7 linked regions of the Homo sapiens genome follow. The protein of the gene in region 4 purifies or fractionates together with the protein of the main gene of each other region. This does not show direct contact. Each region holds a gene or a part of one and is shown on either strand. Other genes may lie near its edges.

Evidence for each region.
Region 1: the proteins of DEFA5 (region 4) and QSOX1 purify together in Homo sapiens (affinity purification with mass spectrometry; 2 studies listed by BioGRID and IntAct, with this or other methods). This does not show direct contact.
Region 2: the proteins of DEFA5 (region 4) and MCMBP purify together in Homo sapiens (co-immunoprecipitation; 3 studies listed by BioGRID and IntAct, with this or other methods). This does not show direct contact.
Region 3: the proteins of DEFA5 (region 4) and XAGE3 purify together in Homo sapiens (affinity purification with mass spectrometry; 2 studies listed by BioGRID and IntAct, with this or other methods). This does not show direct contact.
Region 5: the proteins of DEFA5 (region 4) and CLSTN1 purify together in Homo sapiens (co-immunoprecipitation; 3 studies listed by BioGRID and IntAct, with this or other methods). This does not show direct contact.
Region 6: the proteins of DEFA5 (region 4) and TMTC3 purify together in Homo sapiens (co-immunoprecipitation; 3 studies listed by BioGRID and IntAct, with this or other methods). This does not show direct contact.
Region 7: the proteins of DEFA5 (region 4) and RDH13 purify together in Homo sapiens (affinity purification with mass spectrometry; 2 studies listed by BioGRID and IntAct, with this or other methods). This does not show direct contact.

What each region holds. Positions count from the first base shown.
Region 1 is NC_000001.11:180,161,268-180,165,277, reverse strand, and holds part of QSOX1 (sulfhydryl oxidase 1 isoform a precursor), read right to left. Parts: intron 1-4,010. UniProt on the Homo sapiens protein: Catalyzes the oxidation of sulfhydryl groups in peptide and protein thiols to disulfides with the reduction of oxygen to hydrogen peroxide. Plays a role in disulfide bond formation in a variety of extracellular proteins.
Region 2 is NC_000010.11:119,862,416-119,866,425, reverse strand, and holds part of MCMBP (mini-chromosome maintenance complex-binding protein), read left to right. Parts: intron 1-4,010. UniProt on the Homo sapiens protein: Associated component of the MCM complex that acts as a regulator of DNA replication.
Region 3 is NC_000023.11:52,865,012-52,869,531, forward strand, and holds the start of XAGE3 (X antigen family member 3), read right to left. Parts: upstream 3,073-4,520; 5' UTR 2,995-3,072; exon of another isoform or gene 2,802-2,994; intron 2,291-2,801; exon of another isoform or gene 2,239-2,290; intron 2,145-2,238; exon of another isoform or gene 2,131-2,144; 5' UTR 2,123-2,130; coding exon 2,042-2,122; intron 1,528-2,041; coding exon 1,422-1,527; intron 1-1,421.
Region 4 is NC_000008.11:7,054,591-7,058,264, forward strand, and holds DEFA5 (defensin alpha 5 preproprotein), read right to left. Parts: upstream 2,150-3,674; 5' UTR 2,108-2,149; coding exon 1,936-2,107; intron 954-1,935; coding exon 841-953; 3' UTR 714-840; downstream 1-713. UniProt on the Homo sapiens protein: Host-defense peptide that maintains sterility in the urogenital system.
Region 5 is NC_000001.11:9,747,390-9,751,399, reverse strand, and holds part of CLSTN1 (calsyntenin-1 isoform 1 precursor), read left to right. Parts: intron 1-1,486; coding exon 1,487-1,636; intron 1,637-1,753; coding exon 1,754-1,939; intron 1,940-4,010. UniProt on the Homo sapiens protein: Postsynaptic adhesion molecule that binds to presynaptic neurexins to mediate both excitatory and inhibitory synapse formation.
Region 6 is NC_000012.12:88,187,011-88,191,020, reverse strand, and holds part of TMTC3 (protein O-mannosyl-transferase TMTC3), read right to left. Parts: intron 2,179-4,010; coding exon 2,075-2,178; intron 569-2,074; coding exon 399-568; intron 1-398. UniProt on the Homo sapiens protein: Transfers mannosyl residues to the hydroxyl group of serine or threonine residues.
Region 7 is NC_000019.10:55,049,313-55,053,322, forward strand, and holds part of RDH13 (retinol dehydrogenase 13 isoform 1 precursor), read right to left. Parts: intron 1-4,010. UniProt on the Homo sapiens protein: Retinol dehydrogenase with a clear preference for NADP. Oxidizes all-trans-retinol, but seems to reduce all-trans-retinal with much higher efficiency. Has no activity toward steroids.

The sequences.
Region 1 (4,010 bases), on a different chromosome or scaffold from region 4:
AAGCTCATGCCCCAGGGGCAGGGAGTGGAATTTACACAGGCAGCCCACCCAGCACCCATTAAGTACAGAACACTAATATCTGAATAACATCCCTGATAGTCACAGTTTTAGCAGGACCTCTGACCCCACCTGATATGGTCTGGATCTTGTCCCCTCCAAATCTCATGTTGAAATGTGATCTCCAATGTTAGACGAGGTGAAAGGTATTAGATTAGGTAGTGAAAGGTATTAGATCTTGGGGGCAGATCCCTCATGAACAGCTCGGCACTGCCCCCTTGATAACGAGTGAGTTCTCACTCTGAGTTCTCATAAGATCTGATTGCTTAAAATAGGGTGGCACTTCCCAACCCCCTCCTGCTTCCTCTCCTGCTTTGCCTTCTGTCATGAGTAAAAGCTCCCTGAGGCCTCCCCAGAAGCTAAGCAGATGCTGTGTACAGCCTCCAGAACCCTGAGCCAATTAAACCTCTTTTCTTTATAAATTACCTAGCCTCAGGTACTTACTTTTATCAATGCAAAAACACCCTAATACTCCACCCTAGAACTTACTCCTTACGACGTCTCAGAAGAACACAATTTCAGAAGGTATCAGAGCTCCTAAGAACACGTTACGCCTGGGGAAGGAGTGTTACCCTCACCTCCACGAGACAGATGCAGGAAGAGCCTGGCACACCCTGACGCATCCCTGGAAAGAAGGCAACTAAGCTGGCCCTTCTTGGGGCTGATACAAGGGAGGGGGCTCTGCGAGCTGGGAGGAAGGCCTGTGGCCACACCACCCCCTTCTTTCCCCCACCTTTCTTGCTGGTAGTCTGCTTTTGGCATTGTAGCTTCTGGACTCCTCGAAGGAGGGAGGTGGGTGGGGGGTTGGGAAGAGGAAGTAGATGGAGGTATTTACCAGAGTCAGACGTCAAAAGTATTTAGCAGAGTGAGGTGAGCTACATCCTATGATGCCATTTCCCCAACCTCCTCAACACCCCCCCACCACACACTTTTTGGGGAGCCTTCTTGACTCCCTTAGCACACAAGGATAGCAACTTGAGCCTATCCAAGTATCTGCAAGCTGGGGTGCATCCTTTGGCTTTAAACCTCACCTGCAAGGCAGCCTGCACAAAGGCAGGTATGGTCAGGGCCTGTTGCATGCCAGGCCCAGGATGCAATCCCTCTGCCCCTACCAGGGGATTGCTGATCCCCACCTGCCTCCACATCCTGTCCACTCTCCTCTGAAGTCTCTTCCCTCACCCAAACCTCCATCTCTTCATGCCTGTCCTAGGTTGGCATGAACCCGTGATCTGGTTTTTTACTGACCTCACCTCCAACCTACCCTCCGTGTCCCATGAGCTAGTACAGGTTCTCATGGCAGGGCTTCCAGAGAAACATCAACATATTATTTCTCTCCTGGTGAGGTTCTAATGTGCTCCACCCCTCACTGCCCTCTCTAGCCACCAAATGATCTTTTCTTTCTGTGGATCTGATTATGTCAATCTCTATTCAACATTCTCTGGGGGCTCTAACTGACTTTAGAAGAAAATCTACAACCAGAAGGCAGTTCTTCATTTGGCCCCTGTCCACATATCCAGCCTCCTCTTACGGTTATTTTACGTTAAATTAAGTCATAGATATTCATAAAATATCATTTCTAAGTAAATTAAAATACTGAAACATTAATTGCTGAACATAAGTCTAAAGTATATATGCTTTGGCATCTTGTTTTTGTATGGCATAGAGAATATAATTGGGTCTGTAATAAGCATGAAAAGCTGAGGAAACATGTTTCTAGAAATTATGAAATGGTGAATGTTAATAGAAGACAGTTCACAATGCTTGCTAGTTTTCACTAGAAATTAAGATTACTAAGGAGTAAAAACTAATTAATATAAGCAACTAAAACTAAAAATAATAAGGGACATAATTCTGTATGCAAGGGAAGTATGGCACGGTTTATAAAGGAAGTCATAAAATGTAAGGATGTATTTTAATTAAGGGAAAAAGAGAGTCATTTTGTTCTAAAGTAGAGTGACTGGTTATTTCACAATGAGAAAGAGGAACAGTACAGGACAAACCAATGGATACAAGGAAGTTGTGAAGAGAAAAGAACTTCAAGTGTGGTCGAATGGGCTAACTTATAGTTTTTGTGTTTTTTTTTTTTTGATGAGCCTTAATATCAAAAGTACACTGATGAAAAATCAGAATTTGGTCCTCTCTGTTAAAACAAGGTTTTCTTGAAGTATTGATCTGTTCTTAAAAGGAAACAGTGAAAGGTTTTTCTGTACCTTTTAGGTAATTCTCCTAAAGAAAGATCCTTTGTTTCATCAAGATGATTCCCTGTGCTTCATGTTGTCTTTACTAGGTCCTTGATTACTTAAGAAAATGGAGTCCTCTCTATAAAAGAGCTGTTTTTTCTGCAACAATGTAACATTCTATATTTTCATTTTGAAGTCTTTTAATTATCATTCTGGTTAGATGAATGACTGTGACTTCACAGTGACCTGTGATCCTATTTTGATCAAGTGATTTTTTTTGTTTTGCTTTTTTGTTTTTGTTTTGAGATAAGGTCTCACTATGTCATCCAGGCTGGAGTGCAGTGGTGCGATCGTGGCTCACCTGTCCTCAATCTCCTGGGCTCAAGTAATTCTCCCACCTCAGCTGCTTAAGTAGCTGGTACCACAGGTGCACACCACCACACCTGGCTAATTTTTTAAAATTTTAATATAGAAATGGGGTCTTCCTATGTTGCCCAGACTGGTCTCGAACCCCTAGGCTCAAGGTATCCTCCTGCCTCGGCCTCCCAAAGTGTTGGGATTACCGTCATGAGCCACCATGCCCAGGCTGATTAAGTGTTTTAATTTTAAACCTTTGACATTTTGTACAAACTTCCCAAAATCAAATTCTAAATTAAGGCTTTCTGAACTTGAAGTAACTTTGGAACATTTCAGGGGGCCCTGGAACATCTCAAAGATTCTGCAAAGGGGAGATACTAAACTAGTTAGGCTCATTTGATGTATTAATTATATGGGAAGCATTGTCAAACAAGAAATGATGTTTAATCTTCTTTGAGTTATATTTATTGATGTATGTTTATACTTGCTATTAAGGTGTATCCCCAAAATTATATGATATTCCTAGAAATATGATACATTATCAGCCTTAATTTTGGTTATTAGGTTAAAATGTTGTATGCACAGCAATAACCAGATTTCCTTGTCAATTGTGTCATTATTACTATGAACTCTCATCAGATCTTTAACCACAACCATTTTAAGTCTTATTGTCTACAGTTAATTGCTTTATTCTGATGTTTTTCTAAAAGCTTTTTTCTAAGCAACTATAATCCTGAAGTGCTTCATCTTCAAGGAGATCCACGGAAACGTCTCTGATAAGTACCATTTCTGATAACTTCGAGATAATACGATTGGACTGGGAAAGAATTTCCAGAACTCTAATGAAAAAAACTGATGGGTCTGCAAAACTGATAACCAAGATCAAGCACAACAAGAATTAATTACATGAGACTAAATGAACTAATGAAGAATTATGGGTTTTTCTGGTTTTTAAATTTGAAACGTTGCTGGTTCTTTTTAATGTTTTGTTGTCCAGATTTAAGAAAACTTATTTTCTTTTAAGCTATCTATAGTTTACAGCAATTTGGTAAGTATACTCTTGTGAACAAAAATGGAAACATTTTCTCCCTACAAGACCTCTCTGGAATTCAGAAACTATTTGTGAATATTCCTATTTTTATGGCAATACTGTTATTTGCATAAGTTCAATAAGTATCTGCTCTCTTTACAACAGGATACAATAGGAAACACTGGTCATATTACCAAGGTTTTGAGTGTGATGCCATACTTGAGAATATACCTATGATGAATCTATAGGTACTGCAGGTGAAATCTGAAGTTGGGCTTGGGTTGACTTCCTAGCCTTGAGAAGTTGTTAAAAGTCCAATCTGAGATTCCTTATCGATAAGTTCTAGCAAAGCAAACTTAAGAAGAGCCTACGTGGTCAATCACTAT
Region 2 (4,010 bases), on a different chromosome or scaffold from region 4:
TTGAACTCCTGATCTCAGGTGATCCACACGCCTCGGCCTCCCAAAGTGTTGGGATTACAGGCATGAGCCACCACGCCCGGCCACCCCTATCATTTTCATCACTCCAAAAAGAAACCCCATACCTTTAGTAGTCTCTCCCATTTCTTCTGTCTTCCATCTCTGGCAACAACTATACTTCTGCCCATGGATTTACCTATTCTGGACGTTTCGTGTAGGTGGAATTATACAACATGTGGCCTTTGAGGTCTGGCTTCTTTTCATTTACCATGATATTTTCATGGTTCATCCATGTCATAGTATGCATCAGTACTGCATTCCTTTTTTTTTTTTTTTTAAGAGATAGAGCCTGGCTCTGTCGTCCAGGCTGGAATGCTGTGTGGCAAGATCATGGTTCACCGCAGCCTTGAACTTCCAGTCTCAAGTGATCCTGCAGCCTCAGCTTCCTGAGTAGCTGGGACTACAGGCATGTATTACCTGTATTACCACACCCAGCTAATTTTTAAATCATTTTTTGTAGATTTGGGGTCTCACTATGTTGCCCAGGCTACACTCAAACTCCTGGCCTCAAGTGACCCTCCCGCCTCGGCCTCCCAAAGTGCTGGGATTACAGATGTGAGCCACTGTACCCAGTCTGCATTCCTTTTTATGGCTGAAAATAACATTCCATTGTATGTCTATACTGCATTTTGTTTATCCATATATTTGCTGATGGACACTTAGGTTATTTCCTGGCTGTTATAAATACTGCTACTATAAACATTCATGTACAAGTTTTTGTGTGAATGTAAGCTTTTTGGTTCTTTCCCAGATATACCTAGGGATGGAATTGCAAGGTCATATGATAATTTTATATTTAACTTTTTGAGGAATTGCCAAACTTTTCCACAGTGGCTGCACCATTTTACTTCCCAGGTTCAAGCAATTCTCCTGCCTCAGCCTCCCAAGTAGCTGGGATTACAGGTACCACCAGCAAGCCCAGCTAACTTTTGTATTTTTAGTAGAGATGAGGTTTCACCATGTTGGCCAGGCTGGTCTCAAACTACTGATCTCAGGTAATCTGCCTGCCTTGGCCTCCCTAAGTGCTGGGATTACGGGCATAAGCCACTACGCCTGGCCTAAAATGTTTTTAAGAAAGGTTGTGTGAGAAGAGAACAAGAGGCACATTATATAATGTTAAAACAGTCAGTTCACCAAGAAGACCTAACTATATATGCACCAAGCAACAGAGCTTCAAAATGTATGATGCAAAAACCAGCAGAAATAAAAGAAGAAATAGGCAAATCTGCAATTGTAGTTAGATATTTTACTACTCCTCTCTCAGTACTTGACAGAATAGTGGGTAGAAAATCAAAAAGAATACTGAACAACACAAAACTACACAACACTGTCAACCAAGTAGATCTAATTGACATTTGTTTACCTAATGACAGCAGAATACACATTCTTTTCAAGTGCACATGTAAATTCACCAAGATAAACCACATTCTGGGTCATAAACCAAATAGTAAACTTTATATATAAGAAGAACACTTCTAAACAATCCATGGATTAAAAACTCTCAAAGGAAAGCTTTGAATATTGTGAACTAAACCAAAATGAAAACTCAACATACCAAAATTTGTGGGATACAGCCAAAGACATGCTTAGATGCATTAGCTGCCTTAATTAGAAGAGAAGGTCTCAAGTGAATAATTTAAGCTTCCACCTATGAAACTAGAAATGAAGAGCAAAATAAACCCAAATTAAACAGAAGAAAGAAATAATAGAGAACAAAAATCCATGAAATAGAAAACAGAAAAAAAAGAAAAAATCAGTGAAACTCAAAGCTCTTTAAAAAAAAAATCAATAAAATTGTAAACCTCTAGCCATACTGGCAAAGGAAAAAAAAAAAGGAAAACAAATTACCAATAGTAGAAAAGAAAAAAAGGAAGACAAATTACCAATATTAGAAAAGAAAGAGGAGATAACCACCGTAGACTGTACAGGCATGAAAAGGATAATACAAACAGCTCTACAGATAGAAATTCATCAACTTAGATGAAATGGACCAGTTCCTCAAAAACCACTGTATTAGCTTTCTATTTCTCCTGTAATAAATTACAAATGTAGTGACTTTAAAACAAAAGGTTTTTATTTACAGTCCTGGAGACAGAAGTCTGACATGGGTCTTACTGGGATAAAATCAAATTGTTGACAGGACTTGCATTCCATTGTGGAGGCTTTAGGAGAGAATCTGTTCCTTTTCTTTTCCTGCATCTAGAGTCTGCCCACATTTCTTGGCTTGTGGCCCCCTTCCGTTTTCAAAGACAACAAGTCGAGTTGTTCTCACATCTTACTCTAACTTCCTCTTTTGCCACATCCTTCCACATTTAAGGACCGTTGTGATTACATTGAACCCACCCAGATTGTTTTTTTTTTTAAGTTCAACTGATTATTAACCTTAATTCCATCTGCTACCTTAATTCCTATGTAACATATCTTTACAAGTTCTGGGGATTAGAACATCAGTATCTTGGTTGGGTGGGAGGGGGTCATTATTCTGCTGATCACAGCCACAAACTATCCAAACTCACCCAAGTAGAATAATATTTCACCTTTTACGTCTGGCTTATCTCACTTAGCATAATGTTTTCAAGGTTTATTCCTGTGTCTTCGTTGCTTTTTTTTTTTTTTTTTTTTTTTTTTTTTTTTTTTTTTGAGTCTGAGCCTCACTCTGTCTCCCAGGCTGGAGTGCAGTGGTGCGATCTCAGCTCACTGAAACCTCCGCCTCCTGGGTTCAAGCAATTCTCCTGTCTCACCCTCCCGAGTAGCTGGGATTACAGGCGTGTGCCACCACGCCCGGCTAATTTTTGTATTTTTAGTAGAGACGGGGGTTTGCCATGTTGGCCAGGCTGGTCTTGAACTCCTGACAGGTGATCCGCCCGCCTCGGCCTCCCAAAGTGCTGGGATTACAGGCGTGAGCCACCCCGCCTGGCCCTCGCTGCATTTTAATAAAGATACAAAAGCTAATTCAAATGGAAAAAGGATATTCTTTTCATCAAAGACATGAACAATTTAACATTTACATGGAAAAATAAAATCCTCAACCTTTACCTCATATTTTATATAAAATTAACTCAAAATGGATCATACATCTGAGTATAAAACCTGAAACTATAAAACTTTTAGAAGAAAACAGATCTTTGTGACCTGGGGTTTGGCAATGAGTTCTTAAGACATGACACCGAAGGCACAGTGCGTAAAACAAAAATTTGATAAATTGGGCTTCATCAAAATTAAAAACCTTTGTTCTGTAAAAAAAAATTCTATTAGGAGCATGAAAAGACAAGCTATACACTGGGAGAATATATTTGAAAATCCGGTATCAGAAAAAGAACTTGAATCCAGAATATATAAGAAAACACAGCAGTAATTTAAAAACTCAATTTTAAAAGGGGCAAAAGATTTAAGTAGGCTTAAATAGACATTTCACCAGATAGGATACAAGGATGGCAAATATCCCCCTGAGAAGAGTTCAGCATTGTTAGCCATTAGGGAAATGCAAATTTAAGCCATGATATTGCATATTAGAACAGCTAAAATTTAAAAATACATAGTGATAGTACTAAGTACTGGCAAGGATGGGAACAGCTGGATCTCTTAGCAAAATGGTGCAGCCACTCTGGAAGACAGGTAGAATCTTAATCATACATTTACCATGTACTCAACTGTGTCATATCTAGATACTCATTCTAGAGAAATGAAAGCTCATGTTCACATGAAAACCTGCAGACACGTGTTTTATAGTTTTGTTTATAGTTGTCAAACCTGAAGACAATCTAAATGTCCTTCAGCAAGCAAATACATAAACAAATTGGTTGTTATTCAGAGGAATAATAGGAATAAAAAGAAATGAAGTATTGATATACAAATGTGTTGGGGAGTCCTATAACCACCCATATGCTTGAAGATTTACTAGGACTTATATGATTCACTGTATAGTTGTACTCCTCCTAAGATTTATTGCAGCA
Region 3 (4,520 bases), on a different chromosome or scaffold from region 4:
GTAATAAATGTGATGCAAAGATGTCCCACCTTTGTTTTCCTGTACTATGAAATCTTATCTTAAATGACAATCTGAGGAAAAATCAGACCACACTTACATTTCCTATACTTTACCATTGTGTACTATAAACAGTGAGTGTCAGCTATCTAGGAAACCTAAAGACTGCCCAATGGATAGCATTTTAATAATAACTTAAATGTAATTTTCTGAAAGATTAGATGAATATATTGGTGAGCCTATGACAAATCTTACAGTCCTGACACTCATCACCTGTTGAGGTAACTTGAAAATTTTTTGGTTAAAATTAAACAAACTTAGGTCCAAAGGCCCTATATGTAACTTTCCATAAATGAATCCCATTCACAAAAAAATACCGAATATAACAGCAAAATCGCTGTCTTCCACAAGAGTACAGAAACTTGAGTGAAAAAAAAATTAATGGGCATTGTTGACAGTCATATTCTGGAAACCCCTTAACAGTGAATTGCTAAAGTAACCCATGACCCAAATTCTGTCAATGTTTAACTTCAAAATGCTCTCTGTTGAGGAAATAATTTCTGTTTCATGATAATCTTATCGTACTTCGAGTTTTCTAATTATAAAAGTATATAAACAACTCTTTAAAAGCCCCTTAAAATCATACTAATATAGCTACCTGTATGCCAATGTCCTGAATTATCCAGATTTTACCAAACATACTTTCAAAAATACAAAGCAAAGGAAAGAGTGGCTGTCATTCATTGAGCTCTTTTCTGGCGTTGCTATCCTGCTTCACTGAACTTTGTTTTGTCCTGAGCCAATACTGAAGTACTTACAGTACAGACACATTTGAGTATTAACATTTCAAGCAAAATCATTCACGTTTTCTAATGTGAATGGTAGGGAGAACACAAACCTTGGAATGAAATATGAATTCCTTCTCCATGACTCAACTGTTCTTGGTAAGCCTCCATTTCAGAGCCTCAGTTTTCTTATTTATAAAATGGGGCTAACATCCTTATGCAAATGGGCTTTATTCAGTGTATTCAGGTAGGGTGACTTGGCATTCTACATGCTATTAAAGGGTGCATACAATACTGTGGACACCTTGGCTGAGAAGATCAGACAACAACATTCTAAGAAGATCAAAGTAAACTAGTGAAATAATGTATATTTTTGTACATCAAATTAAACAGTTTCATCTGATTTAGCAAGGACTGTATTTTCAAGCATACGAAATATATTTCAAAGGTAAGAGAAGATTCATTATATCCATGAAGCTGCAAACTATACTCTTCACTTTTCCAGCCAACTCTCAGCAAATGTTTGAGATCCTTTCCTAATGTTTTCTTTCCTCCTGTTACTGGTCATGGCATAAGGCATGATGCACACATAGGCCTCCTCCCCTCCCCATAGACATTCTTTCTTTCCCTTCCCAGCACCTTGAGTCTCAGCTGCACCCTGATCTTCTTCTCTCTCCTGACCAGGTGCAGGATCCCGACTTTCAGTTGGTGGTTCCTCTTGCTGAGGCTCCTCATCACCGGGCTCCTGGAACCAGGGGTGTGTGTGTGTGTGTGTGTGTGTGCAGATAAAAAGTTTTGTTATCGATACATTTCAATAATACAAATATACAGAATACATAGATATTTCTGATCATAAGTCTAAAGACATTTCTCCAACACGATTCCACATACTTATTTTTCATAAAGTTACTCTTCCCACAGAGAGGTTACTCTAAGACAGTTGCCCTCAAGGGCTTTGGAAGCTGTTTTAATCTAAGCTGGGATGAATGTGTGTAATCTTTTGCAAATAAGCATGAGAAGGAAATCATGGGCAAAATCTGGGGAACACAAGATCATCCATCCAGACAACAGAAGAACTTAATCCTCTTGGACTAGTCTTTCCTTCATGAGATGCCATGATTATTTTTCTCAGCATGGGAGACCTTTATTGGTATATCTATACTGGTTCAACAACAATTACAAAACATAGTTTTGCAACAACAACAAGTTACAAAAATAACTTTCTGCTAATAGAAAACATCAAAGGTTAAGGCACTCACCAGCATAGGCCCAATCAGCTCAGGAGGTGGTACACTTCTCCTCGGCCTAGGCCTATATGTTGATCTTCCTCGCCAAATCATATTTCACACTGCAAACAGAATACTGTGAATTGGTAAATGCACTTGAAAAGACAGCTATATTTGACCACTTCCATGACCAAATATTAACTTGTCATTTTTTAAAAGTTTGTAAATACTTTCGAACTAAGTCTCAGGGCAAGTGTAAGTATGTGTGCCTTCTGAATGCTTGGGAAGCCATTAAGTTGGTCAAGCTAGCTGAGCAATTTCTTAAGGCTCCTGGCAAAAGACAGGATATTTCCGATGAGGTTTGGTTTCACAACTGAACTCTCCTCCGTGGAGACATTTGGGAAAATACAGCCAGAGAATTAAAACTGCAGTGACCACGGCTTTTGTCACACACCCATTTGCTGGGCCCATTTCCCCCCTAAAATCAAGTTTTGTTGGAATGCAGAGCCCCGCCCATTCAAACCTCCACAGTGGAGTTGAGAAGTTGCCACACAGCTCTGGGCCCTCCTCACTGTACACCTCTGCCAGGCGCTTTACAGACCTCAGGGCCACAGTCACCAACCCGCAGCGTTCCCAGTTCCCTTCCTTAATGCCCACCCTGCTCCTTCCCGGGTCGACACGGAGGAGTCTGGAATCCGTCCTCGGTCGAGGGTTCCAGGGACTCGGATACCTGCCCCAGCACCCCCAGCACTCGCCCCATTTTCACCTGACCCCTCTCAACTACGCGGCCCACCTTCTTCCCTCATTCTGACTTCACCACAACAAGGCCCATGGCAGTGCCACCTCACGAGGAGAAGGACGATCACCTTGAGACCCTTCGGCCTCTGAGGCCACGGGCTATGCTTTCCCACGCTCCGGACAGCCACTGGCTCCTCCTCACACGCACTCACACTTCAACCCTTGGGAGGACTGGCCTGCGGACCTACCAGCTGCGTCTCAGTGGGACAGAAAAAGTCCAGACAGCAGGAACGCGACCCTCACACCCTCACAACTCCAGGGCATTCACCACGTGGGAAAAGGGGCCGAGGGGAAGACACCCAGTGGACATGCGCAGTGAGGTCGGTGCCTGCCTAGTGGGCTGTGGCGCCTCTCCTAGCCCCACCCCATGCCGCGCCGCGCAGTTCTCTACCCTCTCCCAGGTTCCCACTGAAGACTTCGGAATGTGTCTTCTGTGGGCGGTTTCATATGCCTCCGGGACTCAAATACCACAAATAGTTTCCCCCTTCAAAACTCACTCCATGTTCACTAGGTCCTCCTCCCCTCTATGGCCCTCCTTCCTCCCCTGTCTGGGACCCCCACGACAGCAAGGCCATGGCTGTGTCACCACCTGTTAGGAGAAGGACAGGAACCTCAAGGACCTCCCCGTCGGAGGCCATAGACCGCGCCGCGGGCTCCTCCTCACAGTCTCTCCCACTTCAACTCTGGGAAGACTGATCTTCGGACTTACTGGCTGACTCCTAGTCAGCAGCACAGAAGGAAGTCATGATGTCTCCTTGCACAGCTCTGCAGGGACAGAAGGCGGACAGCAAGGCACATGGACAAGGGACTTGGGCAGCAAGGGACGTGCACACTGAGTCAGGCACATGCAAGGCCACCCGGGGTTTTCCCTCTCTCCCCAGGCTCGCATCCCTAAGGTGTTTGTAGTAGAAGGAAAGGGACTAAGAGGCTTCGTTCTCTCTCTTGCCCTACCATTCTCATGCATCCAGAAACACTGGGGACAGTCCCATGTCACCATGAGTGGAGGATGTGTCTCAGACCTTTTGTGACAGAAATAAATTATTTTATTATATATATTCATACATACTTCTTTCTCATTTATATATGCATGGGTGTCTGCCATGTTGCAGGAAATATCTGGGATGCTGGAAATGTGAAGACCAAGGAACCACACGTGGTATGTCCCATGGAGGCTACCACACTGTGGTGGGGCAGACAGACAGTTAAACAGAAGAGCAGTTGAACTGCAAAGGAGAAACACGGGGAACGGACCCAGGGGAGTAAAGAACAATGAATGTCGTGGCCAAGAAGCAAGGGAGAAAACAACACAATTTCTCAAGAAGATAATATTTCTCCATTGCCTTTGCACCTTTTTTGAAAATGAGTTTATCATGTCTGTGAACCTATTGCTGGACTCCATTCTGATCTGTTGATTTTTCCCCAGTACCACATTCCCTGGATTACTATAGAATTAACATGACTCTTGAAATTAGGTAGTGTGATTTCCCCAAAGTTATAGTTCAGAATCGTTTTGGTTTTTCTCGTTCATTTTCCTTTCCATATAATTTTGAAAAAATGACTCCAATGAAGTGGGTTGTATAAGTTCATGCAGTTTCGCTTTGAAAGGCAGCAGATAAATGTGTTAGTAGCTATAGGAGGACATGGGGGAAGAAGGGGAGTTCCCCCCTTAGCTTGGAGAATGATCCCATTTAGAGGGAAGAGTTGGTGGTTCAGG
Region 4 (3,674 bases):
TTTAACACATCTGCTTAAAATTTCAAAAATTATGTATAGCAATGCTTTCCCACTTTTTAAAATTAAAGGACAAGTAAACATAGCCCATTAGATCTATCTTTCCTTTGAGCCAACAACCACTTTTTGCCTCTCATTGTAAACTTCTACTTTTTGAGTATCATTAGGAATGCATTGAATTTTTAAGTTTCAAACTATTCCAATTAACACTTATATCCTGTCAGGAATGGTGGCTCAAGCATGTAATCCTAGCACTTTGGGGGGCTGAGGAGAGCAGATCACTTAAGCTCAGGGGTTCGAGACCAACCTGGGCAATATGGTGAAACCCTGTCTCTACAAAAAAATACAAACCATTAGTAGGGTGTGGTGGCACATGCCTGTAGTCCCAGCTACTCAAGAGGCTGAGGTGGGAGGATCATTTGAGCACAGGAGGTCAAGGCTGCAGTGAGCCGAGATTGCACCGCTGTACTCCAGCTTGGGTGGCTAAGTTAGACACTGTCTCAAACAACAACAATAAAAAACCCAATTATATTCATTTTTGTTATTTTGTTATTGCTCTATGATGCTCAAATTGTGCATCATTGGAATGCAAAGACCAGTTAACTTAATGTAGATCAGAATTCTCAATACAAAGGAACCATACAAACCACCATATAACAAAGCAAAAGAAAAAAAAGGAAAAAGAAAAGAAAATTAAAAAGGTCAAACACACTAAGTTTAATGCTTGAACTTTATTTTGGAGAGAGAAATTTAGAAAGACACAAGGTACACAGAGTAAAATGTTTTTCTTTTTTCAGGACCTTGAACTGAATCTTGCACTGCTTTGGTTTCTATCTAGGAAGCTCAGCGACAGCAGAGTCTGTAGAGGCGGCCACTGATTTCACACACCCCGGAGAGGGACTCACGGGTAGCACAACGGCCGGTTCGGCAATAGCAGGTGGCTCTTGCCTGAGAACCTGTGGAAAGAAGAGAGGGTCAGGCACAGCGAGGGAGGTGGGAAAAAGGACAAGCACAGCCAGACTAACTGAGATAGTCTAAATAAGAGACACTGTATCAGTCATGTTAGGATGGAGAAAATTCATGTCTTTGTCGTAAGTGACAAGAAATCTTACTAGCTATGTGTTAGTCATGCAAGATCATAGTTTTTTTCCCCATGTGAGTCTATCCAGGATGTATTTATTACCTGCTCCCTGGTCCAACAATATACCTCTCAACCTCAGGGTTACCTACTCTTCATTCTGCTTCATCCACACGCCTAATCTTGACCTCCATGTGTGATTTCCAGGTCCTAACAAGGCTCCCTAAAGCACCTGAATCAGTTTCTGAAATGCCGCATTGTGCATGCTAATGTCATGGACCAAATACTTTGGTGCTCAAGGAGTCTTTGAAGACTTTCCAAATTCAAATTCTTCATTCTCTGTCTCTCCTTTTTTTTTTTTTTTTTTTTTTTTTAACATTTTACATATTTACTTGTTTTAATTGACAAACAATAATTGTGTATATGTATGAGACACAATATGATGTTTTGATCTAAGGATGTATTGTAGAAAGATTTAATCAAGCCTATTAGCCTACATCAAAACACACCTATAGGTTCCTCTCTAGGTTCTAAAAGCTTTTCCAATGGACAAAGTAAAACACTCTCTATATAACTAAGTCTGCCCATTTAGATCTACAAAGAACTAGTCAGTGTAGCTCTTTCTATCTTAAAAGTAGCAAATTTCACAGAAATATCTTGGAACTGAAAGTCTTAGAAAAAAGAAAATCTTTTAGATTTATTTGGTTCTCACTGATTAATTTATAGATGAGAAAATCAAGGTCCAGGAAGATTAAGTAAAGTCACTCAAGTGAGGTAGACCTTTCCACACTTGACTCCAGATCCTTTCTCCAATCCTTTTTTTCTAGATTTTGCAGATGTGCAAGATTGATGTCTCCTACCTGAGGTTCTAAGAGCAGAGAGTCCATTTCCTGCAAAGGAGATAGCAAGGTCCTGGTTGTCTTCCCCAGACTGCTTCTGGGTTGTAGCCTCATCAGCTCTTTCCTGGAGTGACTCAGCCTGGGCCTGCAGGGCCACCAGGAGAATGGCAGCAAGGATGGCGATGGTCCTCATGGCTGGGGTCACCTGCAGGAGGGAGAGCAGGAGTGGATATGTGGGGAGTGAGGAGTCAGCCTGGATTTATAGCTCTGCTGGGAGAAGACCTGAGACAGAAGCTGCAGTGAGAGGAGGTGGGCATGTGATTGGGAGGGGAAGGACTGCCTTTGTTCTCAAGATCCCTTTGATGCTCCTCTTTCTCCCAGCTTTCATCAAAGCGTGAGTCTGTATGCTTAATGCCTCTTCTTGATCCAAGGTGTTAATGATGATAAGGGTATTACTATCCTGTTCTGTTTCCCATCTGCTTGAGTATTTACTTTTATATATTCAAAAAAGAAAAACAACAGCGCTTTCATTCAAGAAGTTTGGGGATCAAATGCCTCTTGTTTTCTGAAGATGGTCCCTGGTACTCTCTGGATGACTCTCTGGGGGCAGACCTGGGACTCAGTGGAGTAGAGAGTTAATTCATTGCAGGATTCAGGGATATTACTAACCTCATGTAGGAGGCTTTTGAGATCTCGAGGTGAGTAGTCTCCCGCTGGTGCCAGTATGGAGAGGTCAATGACCTTATCAGGCTATAGGGGAAATGAGTTCAGTAAAATAGTAGGCCAAGTTTATCAGATTAAAATAAAAATTCGGATTTAGTTCAAGGAGTTGGTGTGATCTGAATGCATCACATAAAATGTGTAGCGGGTACTTCTCTCCACTTTGGGGAATATCAAAGTAATTTAGGTGCGTACAGCCCCTTTCTGAGATTTTTTTTTTAGTTTTAGAAAATTGTAAATCATGCACAAGGAACAACATTCAAAAGGTAGAAGTCATGAGCTCTCATTTCTACCCCCAGGCCTTCAGTTCTGACCCAGCAAACCATCACTATTAACAGTTACACATAGTATTCTGCACTTCGCTTTTTTCACCTGTAACATTGGCACTTTGTATATCAAAATACATGGAATGCTATTATAATTTTAATAGCCTTATACTATCCCAGGGTTTGTATATGCCATCACTTATTTTTTGTACTGATAAAATATTATAAAATTATTACAATTTGGTTATTTTTAAACTTTTGCAGTAATAAGTAAAGTTACAGTGATTATCTTGTATATATGTTCTCTTACCTATATGGATAAACTTATAGAAATAGAATTGCTGTGTCAAAGAATGCATCTTAAGCCAGCATGGTGGTACATGCCTATATTTCTAGCTATTTGAGAGGCTGAGGTGGGAGGATCACTGGAGACCAGGAGTTCGATACCAGCCTAAAAACATAGTGAGACCCCTTTCTCTTAAAAAAAAAAAAAGAGACTATATCTTACACATTTTTAAGATATTACTACATATTTCCATAATATCACCATATTTGATCCAAATCCTTTGGGGCTCAGTGGGCCCTTGGAGAGTCTCTATATTTGAATTCCTCATTTAATTTTTTTCAAATTTATTTATTTATTCATTGAAAAATAATTTTCTGTATATTTGTAGGGTATGATGTGACGTTTGGATTGATATCCACATGGGAGAAACACATAAGCTAATTAAGATAGCCATCACCTCACCAACTTAATTTTTTAAGGAGAATTAC
Region 5 (4,010 bases), on a different chromosome or scaffold from region 4:
TCTGTGCTTCGTCAGAACTTCATGGAACTCACAAGTTGGAGACCTAACCTGGTGTGTGTTTGCTTTTAATTGTAAAAACATTTAAGTTTCTACTTTGTTCCCTGACAACTTCTTCTCTGGAACCTGTAAGTCCTGTGTTCTCTTGTGGGGCTCACCTCTTTTTTGCTTTCCCACCAAAATCAAATAAAAATCCTCCTACCTGACATGGCTTTGTTTTTTTAATCTTCTTAACTTTCAGTCCACATGCATCTGAATGAGACTGACCTTTACATTTAGTTTGTCTCATTTTCTGTTCTCCATTAAGTTTTTTGTTTTTGTTTTTGTGGTTTTTTTTTGAGACAGTTTCTCACTCTGTTCCCCAGGCTGGAGTACAGTGGTGCGATCTCAGCTCACTGCAACCTCTGCCTCCCGGGTTCAAGTGATTCTCCTACCTTAGCCTCTCGAGTAGCTGGGATTACAGGTGCCCACCACCACGCCCAGCTAATTTTTTGTTGTTGTTGTTTGTATTTTTAGTAGAGATAGGGTTTCACCATGTTGGCCAGACTGGTCTTGAACTCCTGACCTCAGGTGATCCGCCCACCTTGGCCTCCCAAAGTGCTGGGATTACATGTGTGAGCCACCGCGCCTGGCCATGTTCTCCATTAAGTTAGAATCTCCTGTGACATCTTTTTTTTTTTTTTTTTTGTTTGAGGGAAGGTCTTGCTCTGTCGCCCAGGCTGGAATGTAGTGGTGCAGTCACTGCTCACTGTAACCTCGAACTCCTGGGCTCACGGGATCCTCCCGCCACAGCCTCGCTAGTAGCTGGGACTGCAGGCACACACCTGTAGTCCCAGCTATTTGGGAGGCTGAAGTGGGAGAATCGCTTGAACCCAGGAGGCAGAGGTTGCAGTGAGCCGAGATCAGGCCACTGCACTCCAGCCTGGGCAAGAGAACGAGACCCTGTTCCAAAAAGAAAAAAAAAGATAATACAGTGTTTCCATTGTTAATCAATGCACGGTCTAGAATCTTTGATGGAATTATGGACATTGCAAACACTTTCCAGAGATCTATACTCACCACGTTCAAAAAGCAGGCTTCTGTTCTAAGCAGGTGGGGGTAGGAAATCTCTCTTTCTTTTAATATAGTAAATGTTTGATCAGCGATCTTATATTTAATATTTGAGGTACTTGAATTATTATTATTTTTTAATCCTCTGAATGTATGTAAACAGTTAAATCTTAATGTAAAGCCCAATGTAACACTGTGAGAGTAAGTGGAGACTGAGCTGTGTAGCTCCGTCTCTTCTGTTGAAACTCTTCAGGATGGATTTAGTGCGTGTTAGGGCTCAGGGAGGACAGGTTGAGGGTTAAGCATCCCAAGCATATGTTTATTTCTGGCTGAGTATTTACAGGGCTTAAAGCCTATGCATTTTGTCTTTCCGCCTAGGACAACAAAAGTAAAACCAGCATGGGTTTTGGCTCTCACTGTTGTTTTTGCCCTCTGTAAGGTTATATAAAAAACACAGAGAAATTAAACTACGGGAAAGAACATCAATATAAGCTGACCGTCACTGCCTATGACTGTGGGAAGAAAAGAGCCACAGAAGATGTTTTGGTGAAGATCAGCATTAAGCCCACCTGCACCCCTGGGTGGCAAGGTGAGCTTCATTCTCTCCCCTGCGCTCACATCTGCTCTTAAAACTGATGTATGCGGCAGCAACCTAGAGTGTGTGTTTTCCTTCTCTCTTCCCCTGCTGACTTGTGGACCAACACAGGATGGAACAACAGGATTGAGTATGAGCCGGGCACCGGCGCGTTGGCCGTCTTTCCAAATATCCACCTGGAGACATGTGACGAGCCAGTCGCCTCAGTACAGGCCACAGTGGAGCTAGAAACCAGCCACATAGGGAAAGGCTGCGACCGAGACACCTACTCAGAGAAGTCCCTCCACCGGCTCTGTGGTAAGGAGACCAGGCGTTCTTGCATCCGGCTGGCTTTGGTGAAGGTGGGAGGGACCTTTACAACTGGAAATACTTGTGTGTGTTGTGTTCATAATTATAAACTGTGACAGAGAATCTGCATTTCTGAAGTGAACTTTGCTGCCTTGCTGGCTAGTTTTCATACTGGATGGGCTTCGGGGGTGGGGCAGGGGGTGGACATCAACTCCTAAACGTCTATTCAACATGTTGTGTATATGTGCATTTTAAGAACCACTGGTGGCCAGATGTGGTGGCTTATACCTGTAATTCCAGCACTTTAGGAGGCCGAGGTGGGAAGATCACTTGAGCCCAGGAGTTTGAGACCAGCCTGGGCAACACAGCGATACCCCATCTCTACAAAAAATTGAAAAATTAACTGGGGATGGTGGCATGGACCTGTAGTTCCAGTTACTTGGGAGGCTGAGCGGGAGGATCACCTGAGCCCGGGAGGTTGAGGCTGCAGTGAGCCGTGATGGCACCATTGCACTCCACCCTGGGCAATAGAGTGAGACCCTGTTTTAAAAAAAGAACCACTGATTTGAAGGAAGTATTTCTCCAGCATACTCTGAGAATCATCCAAAAAGGGCTTCTATAGGAGTACATGGAGTGAGTTTTACATGAAATGAGATGTTTACTTACGAATTGAAGACAAAGGCCAGGGCATGGGGGCTCATGCCTATAATCTTACCACTTTGGGAGGCCGAGGTGGGCAGATCACCTGAGGTCAGGAGTTCGAGACCAGCCTGACCAACATGGAGAAAACCCTGTCTCTACAAAAAAAACAAAAACTAGCCGGGCATGGCGGTGCACGCCTGTAGTCCCAACTACTTGGGGGGCTGAGGGAGGAGGATCGCTTGAGCCCAGGAGGTGGACGTTGCAGTGAGCCAAGATCACGCCGCTGCATTCCAGCCTGGATGACAGAGTGAGAACCTGTCTCAAAAAGAACTGAAGGAAAAATATAGGTAATACAATAGCTTTTGACAAACATGAAGTAGAAAATCAGAACTAAAGATAGCCACATCTAACTTAGAATCTCAATAGATTTTCTATATCACAATATTGTGTGGAGAAATTGAGAGACAGAATTACTGGGAAACCCACCAGAAGGCTAGGTCTCTCTTTACTGTCAGCTGCGGATATTTTTCTGGTTTATCTAAATGAAGAAGAGGTGAGGTATGGATGGCTGTCATGGAAGATGTTGAGGGAAGAACATTTAGTTGACTGGTGATAAAATCCCACTAAATGAAGCAGCGTCTTCATAAATTGGAAGGGTCTTTTGTGTTTCAAAAAGCTTTTGTGAAACAGCTTTTCAGGGAGCATTTTCTTAAACTGATGAGTCTTTTCACTAGCCTGATAACAACCATGAGATTTAGGTTACTGGTTTTCTTTTTTTTTTTTTTAGACAGAGTCTCACTCTGTCACCCAGGCTGGAGTGCAGTGGCGCCATCTCGGCTCACTGCAAGCTCCGCCTCCTGGGTTCACACCATTCTCCCGCCTCAGCCTCCCGAGTAGCTGGGACTACAGGCACCTGCCACCATGCCCGGCTAATTTTTTTGTATTTTTAGTAGAAACGGGGTTTCACCGTGTTAGCCAGGATGGTCTCGATCTCCTGACCTCGTGATCCGCCCACCTCGGCCTCCCAAAGTGCTGATTGCAGGCATGAGCCACCGCGCCCGGCCACTGGTTTATAATTGAAAATTATCCAGATCACTTGAGGTCAGGGGTCTAAGACCAGCCTGATCAACATGATGAAACCCCCGCTCTACTAAAAATAAAAAATTAGCCAGGCGTGGTGCGAGGTGCCTATACTCCCAGCTACTTGGGAGGCTGAGGCAGGAGAATTGCTTGAACCCAGGAGGCTGCAGTGAGCCAAGAGTGTGCCACTACTCTCCAGCCTAGGTGACAAAGCTAGACTTTGTCTTAGAAAAAAAACAATAAATAAGAAGAAAATTATCATGTGGTAAATAAACCAAAGTAGAAAACTAGACATTATGCTGCCACAGTCCAATGATGAGCATATGGGGGTGTTTGGCAACTCTGAATCCAAATATTC
Region 6 (4,010 bases), on a different chromosome or scaffold from region 4:
AAGGCATCAATAACCAATCAACTCTAAAAACAAGAAAGTTCCTGAGAGTTTGATATTAGAAGTAACTATTATAAAATGTAAGTTTCAAGTTTTAATTTAAATAGGAAAAGAACAATTTTGGTGATGGGAAGAAAATGCAACTAAGACAGAGCTGCTTCTACCCTTTCCTTAATACAAAACCTAAGTTGGCTATTACAAGTTAGGGATTCCCCTTGTTAATTTCAAATCAATAAAATCTGACTGTCAGTCTAAAAAGTTATGCTCTTCTATGCACTTGGTTGCTAAGTAAGATTATTAAAAACATAATTTTTTTTCAAAAAAAACCAATTCATTCAAAATGTACATGGAGATGCAGTTTCAATATTCCATAATGATAGCTTAAAGTTGAACTGGGATACCTGCTAATGTAAGCCTGCTTGAAGTCGGGCCTCATGCTTATTGCTTGACGGTACAGCTGATCTGCTTCTTCCAGTCGGGACTCATTTGCTCGGATCAGGTTAGCCAGATTGATATAAACATTTAGGTGGTTAGGGGCAATTCTGGCTGCATATTTTTTACCAGGAATAATCTGTTTAGAAGAAAAGGCATTTTCATGATTTGATATTTCAGTATCAAAAATCAAAAGTACATATTCCTATTGGCTAATTCAAAATAACTCAGAACATACTGTAAAAAATACACTGGACTGAGAGATCAGGGTTCTACTCCTGTTTTGACTAAACCTAAGATACCTTGACTTCTAAAAGTTCTGATTTGTTTGACTTCAGAAAAAGACAGATACAAATAAAAAGCTAATAATCCACTGAGGTGGCATGAATGAAAAAATATATCCTTAATGCCACAAAGTACTATTTTATTTACATTTTTGAGGATACTGTAAGTAAAATATTTTTATTCACATTTTTGTGTGTGTTTTCTTTTACATTTTTATTATTTATTTTTAACAAAGTGGTAAAATTAGTGGCATAGTCTTATGTCCTCAGAAAAAATAGCTTAAGCTGGGCTGAAGTTTTCTCAATTGTAATAATATTTATAGTAATATTAATAGTGATAGGATAGTTAATTTTTTTTAAAGTTGAACTGTATGACATTTTAAGGATTATTTTAATCCTTAACTGTAACAGTTAAATTGTATTTGTTATTGGTTTTTATCATATCTAATTTATTGTGTTCACTGGAAGTCTCGATCCATATATACTATGTATTATAAAAACCTTAACTTAATAATCAGACTGTTTAATTTCCAAACTTCACCAGACAAGTGAGTCCTTAGTATTCTGGAATAAATTAACTATCCTACGGTCACAACCCAGAAATATTTTGCTGATAACATGAAAATTGACATAGGGTAAGATCTTCCAATTTCGATACTACCTTATATTTAATGAATCTTATTCTAACAACTGATGGACACAATATAGTAAGAGATGTATCTACTAATTTTATCACTTTATTTTTTGATAGGAATAATGTTGAACTGTATGCTTAATATACATAAATAAAATTATATTTATTTAAAGTCATTAACTTGCTGATAACTCATAATCAAGAATATCTAAAATTCATACTTTATGAATTTAGTTTTTACAAATGGACTATAAAAACAATTTTTAAAATTAAGTGAGCTACGGCCGGGCGCAGTGGCTCATGCCTGTAATCCCAGCACTTTGGGAGGCTGAGGTGGGCAGATCACGAGGTCTGGAGTTCGAGACCAGCCTGGCCAATATGGTGAAACCCTGTCTCTACTAAAAATACAAAAATTAGCCGGGTGTGGTGGCAGGCACCTGTAGTCCCAGCTACTTGGGAGGCTGAGGCAGAAGAATCACTTAAACCTGGGAGGCAGAGGTTGCAGTGAGCTGAGATCGTGCCACTGCACTCCAGTCTGGGCAATACAGCAAGACTCCGTCTCCAAAAAAAAAAAAAAAATTAAGTAAGCTAGAAAAATGTAATTCTTTATAAAACTTACTTTTATATCAACTAACTGAAGAAAAGATAAAGATTTTCCTTCTAGATAATTCTATTCAATATGGACATCTAATAGATATGACACAATAGATAAATTATGGCAACTTACTTGAGGCATCAGTGATTTAGCCATCATGTAAGATTCTTCAGCTTCTTTGGTTCTATTTAAATTTTTATAAGTTCTTCCTACATTCATATGGGCACCAATATCATCTAAAATTTTAAAACAATCATTTGTTGGCAAGTATACAACTGATATATTCAATATACTCAATGAAATGATTAAATGTATTTGATATATAAACAAGTATTCAATGTAACTAATGAGAAGACATATTTCCAGAAACAAACACACTAGGCAAAAATGCAAAAGCAGGCAACAGGTCCTGCTTCTTCCTTAAAGTTCTTGTAATTTAACTTGTTATAACTTAAAACCAATGGTATACACAAAATTACTTAAAGCATGTAAAGACAGAAAATACATACATGGCATGAAAAAACTATTTGAATGGATTTTTGAAGAGTTGAGACATAAGAGAGATAAAGGTAATGAAGAAATTTTTATTACCTTCCTTCATTGTATTTTACTACACTAAAGCTTGCTTCCAGAGATAAAGGTAATGAAGAAATTTTTATTACCTTCCTTCATTGTATTTTACTACACTAAAGCTTGCTTCCATTTACTTAATCTCATAGCTTAGGAATTCACTCAAAAGGTACAGCTCAACTCTACAAGTAAAATGAATCATCAGGATTTTTAGAATTATTTCAAGTGTTATAACAAATATGCATCATGGTGGAACAGGGGCAAAGAGACTGAAAAAAAACTTTGCCATTCGATTTTTAAAAATTTTTGTGACTGTGGCTAGAATGAGAGTATAATGGAACATAATGATAATAGTATTACTTAAGATGCAGTGGCCCAGCTCTTTTAAATGATAATTAACTCCTTAAAATTAATTTTAGATTTTTTTAAAAGGTTGTGTTAATTTTAGAATGTCAGGAACTTATGTCTCATTTTCTGATGTGGAAAGTAAAAATCCCAGCAAATTTATTCAGGGATAGGAAAAAAAATGTAGCTGAAATAGGAAAGAGATGAGGATTCATTGTACAGTAGCTTTTTAAAAAGATATACTTGCCAGTAAATATTTCAAAGGTTTGGAATAATGATAGAAGGAAGGTAGAAGATCTTAAATCAGACAGTTTATACTCAACACGAACTAAAATACATGAAAAGGTTCATTATGATTACTACTTGCCTTGTGATACCAATTATTTTGCAATTGTGCAATAATTCTTTGCCTGCAACTCCTAGGACACATAGGGGCCAAGCATATATATCTTGGGCATTCCCTGAGTAACAGTCCTAAGAACTTGCTATATAATGTTTTAGGCTGGCAATTGTGTGCACTGCACAAAAACTGGCAGATGCGGTCCAGGTTTGATTATAGATAAGTTTAGGAGTAAGGAAGTAGATTTTTTTCTTTTTAGATGTATTGCTGAGTCTCATGGAGCCAGGAGGGGTCAAGCAAAAAAAACGTTTAAGCTAGCCATTCTTAATTCTGGCTGCAAATCAGAATACCTGTGTAGTTTAAAAAAAAGTCAGATACTTCAGCCCCACCTAGGTCCATCAAAACATAATGTTCAGAAATGAAATCTGCAAAAATATGTTCATAAAAAGTGTCAAAGGCAATTCTGATGTAGAATCAGGGCTGAAAATCATTGTATTATCCAATTGCATATAAAATATGCAGTATAGTGATTAGATCAGGGTATTTGCTTGCATTATATGTATCAAAACATCACTATATATCCCATGAATATGTACTATTATTGTCAATTAAAAATATGGGGTAGTCTTTGCTTTTATATCTTTTTTTTTTTTTTTACCAGATAAATCCATACCATATGTTTATAGAGCTCAGAATGTTATTTAGGAAAAGCTAAGGTACATAGAACCTGAAAAAATTATACACTAAGAATTTAAGAATAAACTGAAAATTTGTTAAAATAAAACTGTAATTATGCCAGCTGAGTATTTAAAA
Region 7 (4,010 bases), on a different chromosome or scaffold from region 4:
ACCGCAGGCGTGGTTTCATTCCCAAACCTGCCACCTCACTCATACAAGCAACCAAAGGACACACAGATGGAGACTGCAGCCTCAGTTTCCTCAGCTGTAAAATGCGCTGAACCACAGGGCCTTCCTCCCTGTACCACTCAGCTCGGGTTCCGTAACAAAGTGCCACAGACAGGTGGTTTAAAACCTCACAGACCTGGCCGGGCACAGTGGCTCACGCCTGTAATCCCAGCACTTTGGGAGGCCGAGGTGGGCAGATCACCTGAGGTCAGGAGTTTGAGACCAGCCTGGCCAACATGGAGAAACCGCGTCTTTACTAAAAATACAAAATTAGCCAGGCGTGGTGGCATGCACCTGTAATCCCAGCTACTCAGGAGGCTGAGGCGGGAAAATCGCTTGAAACCAGGAGGCAGAGGGTGCAGTGAGCCGAGATCGCATCATTACACTCCATCCTGGGCAATAAAAGCAAAACTCCATCTCAAAAAAAAAAAAAAAAATCACAGTCCCAGAGGCTGGAAGTCCCAGATCAAGGTGTGGGCAGGGCTGGTTCCCTCTCAGGGCCCTCAGGGAGGATCCGCTCTGGTCTCTCTCCTTGGCTCACAGGTGACCATCTCCTCTCTCCCTCTTCCCTTCCTCTTCCCTTTGGAGCTGTCTCTTTTTTTTTTTTCATTTTTCCTTTTTTAATTTTAGATTTTTCAGACATGGTCTCACTATGTTGCCCAGGCTGGTCTCAAACTCTTGAACTCAAGCAATCCTCCTGCTTTGGCCTCCCAGAGTGCTGCAATTTCACTGCCCCCAGCCTATTTTTTTTTTTTTGGGGGGGGGAGATGGAGTTTCACTCTTGTCACCCAGGCTGGAGTGCAATGGTGCGATCTTGGCTCACTGCAACCTCTGCCTCCCAGGTTCAAACAATTCTCCTGCCTCAGCCTCCCAAGTAGCTGGACTACAGGCATCCACCACCACACCGGGTTAATTTTTTGTATCTTTAGTAGAGACGGGGCTTCACCATGTTGGCCAGGCTAGTCTCACACTCCTGACCTCGTGATCCACCTACCTCAGCCTCCCAAAGTGCTGGGACTGCAGGCGTGAGCCACCACACTCAGTCTACTTGGCCTATTTTTTATATTTCTTTGAGACAGGGTCTCCCTCTGACACCTGGGCTGGAGTACAGTGGCGCAATCACTGCTCACTGCAGCCTCAACCTCCCAGGCTCAAGCAGTCTTCTTGCTCAGCCTCCCAAGTAGCTGGGGCCACAGGCATGCGCCACCATGCCCAGCTAGCACGTCTGTTTCTGTGCGCAAATCTCCCCTTTTCATAAGGACACCAGTCACTGGATTAGGGCCCACCCTAATGACCTCATTTTCACTTCAGGACCTCTGTAAACACCCACCTCTAAATGAAGTCACATGCTGAGGGATGGGGGTTCAGGATCCCAACCTATCCTTGGGGGTGGAGGACACAATGGAATTCATAATGCTCCCGAAGTGGTTTTCGGCGGGGATCGTGAATTAGGTGTCCAGCGCGTAACACACAGACACCATCTGGTTCTCTGTGTGAGAAGGAGGGGGTTGCAGCACACCCGTCATGAATACCAGCTCTGGAGCAGGACAGACAGGTTCAAAGCCTGGCTCCACCCCGACCAGCTGCATGATCCTGGCCAAGTCACATCACTTCTCTGTGACTCAGTTTACTCCTTGTAAAAAAAAAAAAAAAAAAAGGATAATAACATCACCTGCCTGGTACAACTGTATACTTACTCATTCAGTAAGTATTTTCTAAGCACCTATTACTGGGCACTGGAAATACAGGGTGGACAGCACAGCCGAGGCCCCGTCCGTGTGGACCGGACATTCCAGTGCAGCTGAGAGCCACTTCCACTCGTGAGAGAATCTACCCGTGACAGAGCTGCGTGGAAGCTGACAGGAGGCCCCTCTCAGGAGGTGACGCAGAAACTGGGACCGGGAAAATGAGGCAGGGCCCACGTGCGGAGACCCAGGGAAGGGGGATGCAGGCAGCAGGCGCAGCACGGGTAAGGCCCAAAGGCGGGACAGGGAGACTCCACTCACAGCTGGGCGCCCAGGAGTGCCGCCAGCTTCTGGTGTTTTGTTTTGGTTTTTTTTCTTTTTTTTTTTGAGATGAAGTCTCACTCTGCCACCCAGGCTGGAGTGCAGTGGTGTGATCTTGGCCCATGGCCCACTGCAACCTCTACCGCCTGGGTTCAGGCGATTCTGCTGCCTCAGCCTCCCGAGTACTGGGATTACAGGTGCCCGCCACCGCACCCTGCTAATTTTTGCATTTTTAGTAGAGACGGGGTTTCACCATCTTGGTCAGGCTGGTCTTGAATTCTTCACCTCGTGATCCACCCGCCTCTGCCTCCCAAAGTGCAGGGATTACAGGTGTGAGCCACCGCGCCCAGCCTGTTTTTTTTTTTTTCTTTTTATGAGAGGGAAGCTCACTCAGTGGCCCAGGCTGGAGTGCAGTGGCGCGATCTCAGCTCACAGCAACCTCCGCCGCCAGGGCTCAAACGATCCTCCCACCTCAGCCTTCCACATAGCTGAACCACAGGCGCCCGACACCACAAGCAGCTACTTTTAAAATTTTTTGTAGAAATGGGGTTTGGCTATGTTGCTTAGGCTGGTCTCGAATTTCTGAGCTTAGGCAATTCGCCCACCTCGGCCTCCCAAAGTGCTGGGATTGCAGGCGTGGGCCACAGTGCCTGGCCTGTTGTTTTGTTTATCTGGGAACTGCCTCAACTTTTTTTTTTTTTTTTTTTTTTTGGACACAGGGTCTCACCCCGAGTGCAGTGGTACAATCAAAGCTCACTGCAGGCCGGGCGTGGTGGCTCACATCTGTAATCCCAGCACTTTGGGAGGCCGAGGCGGGCAGATCACCTGAGGTCAACCAGCCTGACCAACATGGTGAAACCCTGTCTCTACCTAAAACAAAAAAGTAGCCGGGCATGGTGGCAGGTGCCTGTAATCCCAGCTACTCAGGAGGCTGAGGCAGGAGAATTATTTGAAACCAGGAGATGGAGGTTGCAGCCTGACCAACAGGAAGAAACCCCGTCTCTACTAAAAATACAAAATTAGCCGGGCGTGGTGGCGCATGCCTGTAATCCCAGCTACTCGGGAGGCTGAGGCAGGAGAATCACTTGAACCCAGGAGGTGGAGGATGCCGTGAGCCAAGATCCCGTCATTGCACCAGCCTGGGCAACAAGAGCAAAACTCCGTCTTAAAAAAAAAAAAAAAAAATCCCTCACTGCAGCCTCAACCTCCCAGGCTCAAGCAATCCTCCCACCTCCACCTCCCAAGTAGTTGGGACTACAAGTGCACACCATCACGCCTGCCTCATTGTTTTTTATTTTTTTTTTGAGATGGAGTCTCACTCTGTCACCCAGGCTGGAGTGCAGTGGCGCCATCTCGGCTCACTGCAAGCTCCACCTCCCGGGTTCACGCCATTCTCCTGCCTCAGCCTCCCAAGTAGCTGGGTTACAGGTGCCCGCCACCACGCCCGGCTAATTTTTTTGTGTTTCTTAGTAGACACGGGGTTTCACCGTGTTGGCCAGGATGGTCTCGATCTCCTGACCTTGTGATCCGCCCGCCTCAGCCTCCCAAAGTGCTGGGATTACAGGCGTGAGCCTGCACGCCTGCCTGATTGTTTTGTATTTTTTGTAGAGATGAGGTCTTGCTATGTTGCCCAGGCTGATCTCAAACTCCCTGATAAACAAGGCTGTGGGTACCTGCTTCCTGGGGCTCTTTGCTTTGTGTTCTTTCTAGTCGGGAGCTGGGAAGAGCCACAGCTTCCAGCTTTGTCAGAGTGTCATCTCACAAACTGATCTTCCCAAAACTTCTGTCTCCCAAAGTGCCGGGATGACAGGCGTGAACCGCTGCACCTGGCCTGCCCCAGTGTGGTAGAATACACACCACATAAAATGGACGATCTTCACTATTTTTAAATCCACTGCTGTCTTTATTCCTGGCTGTTGATCTTAGGAAAACACCAAGAAGCTGGTA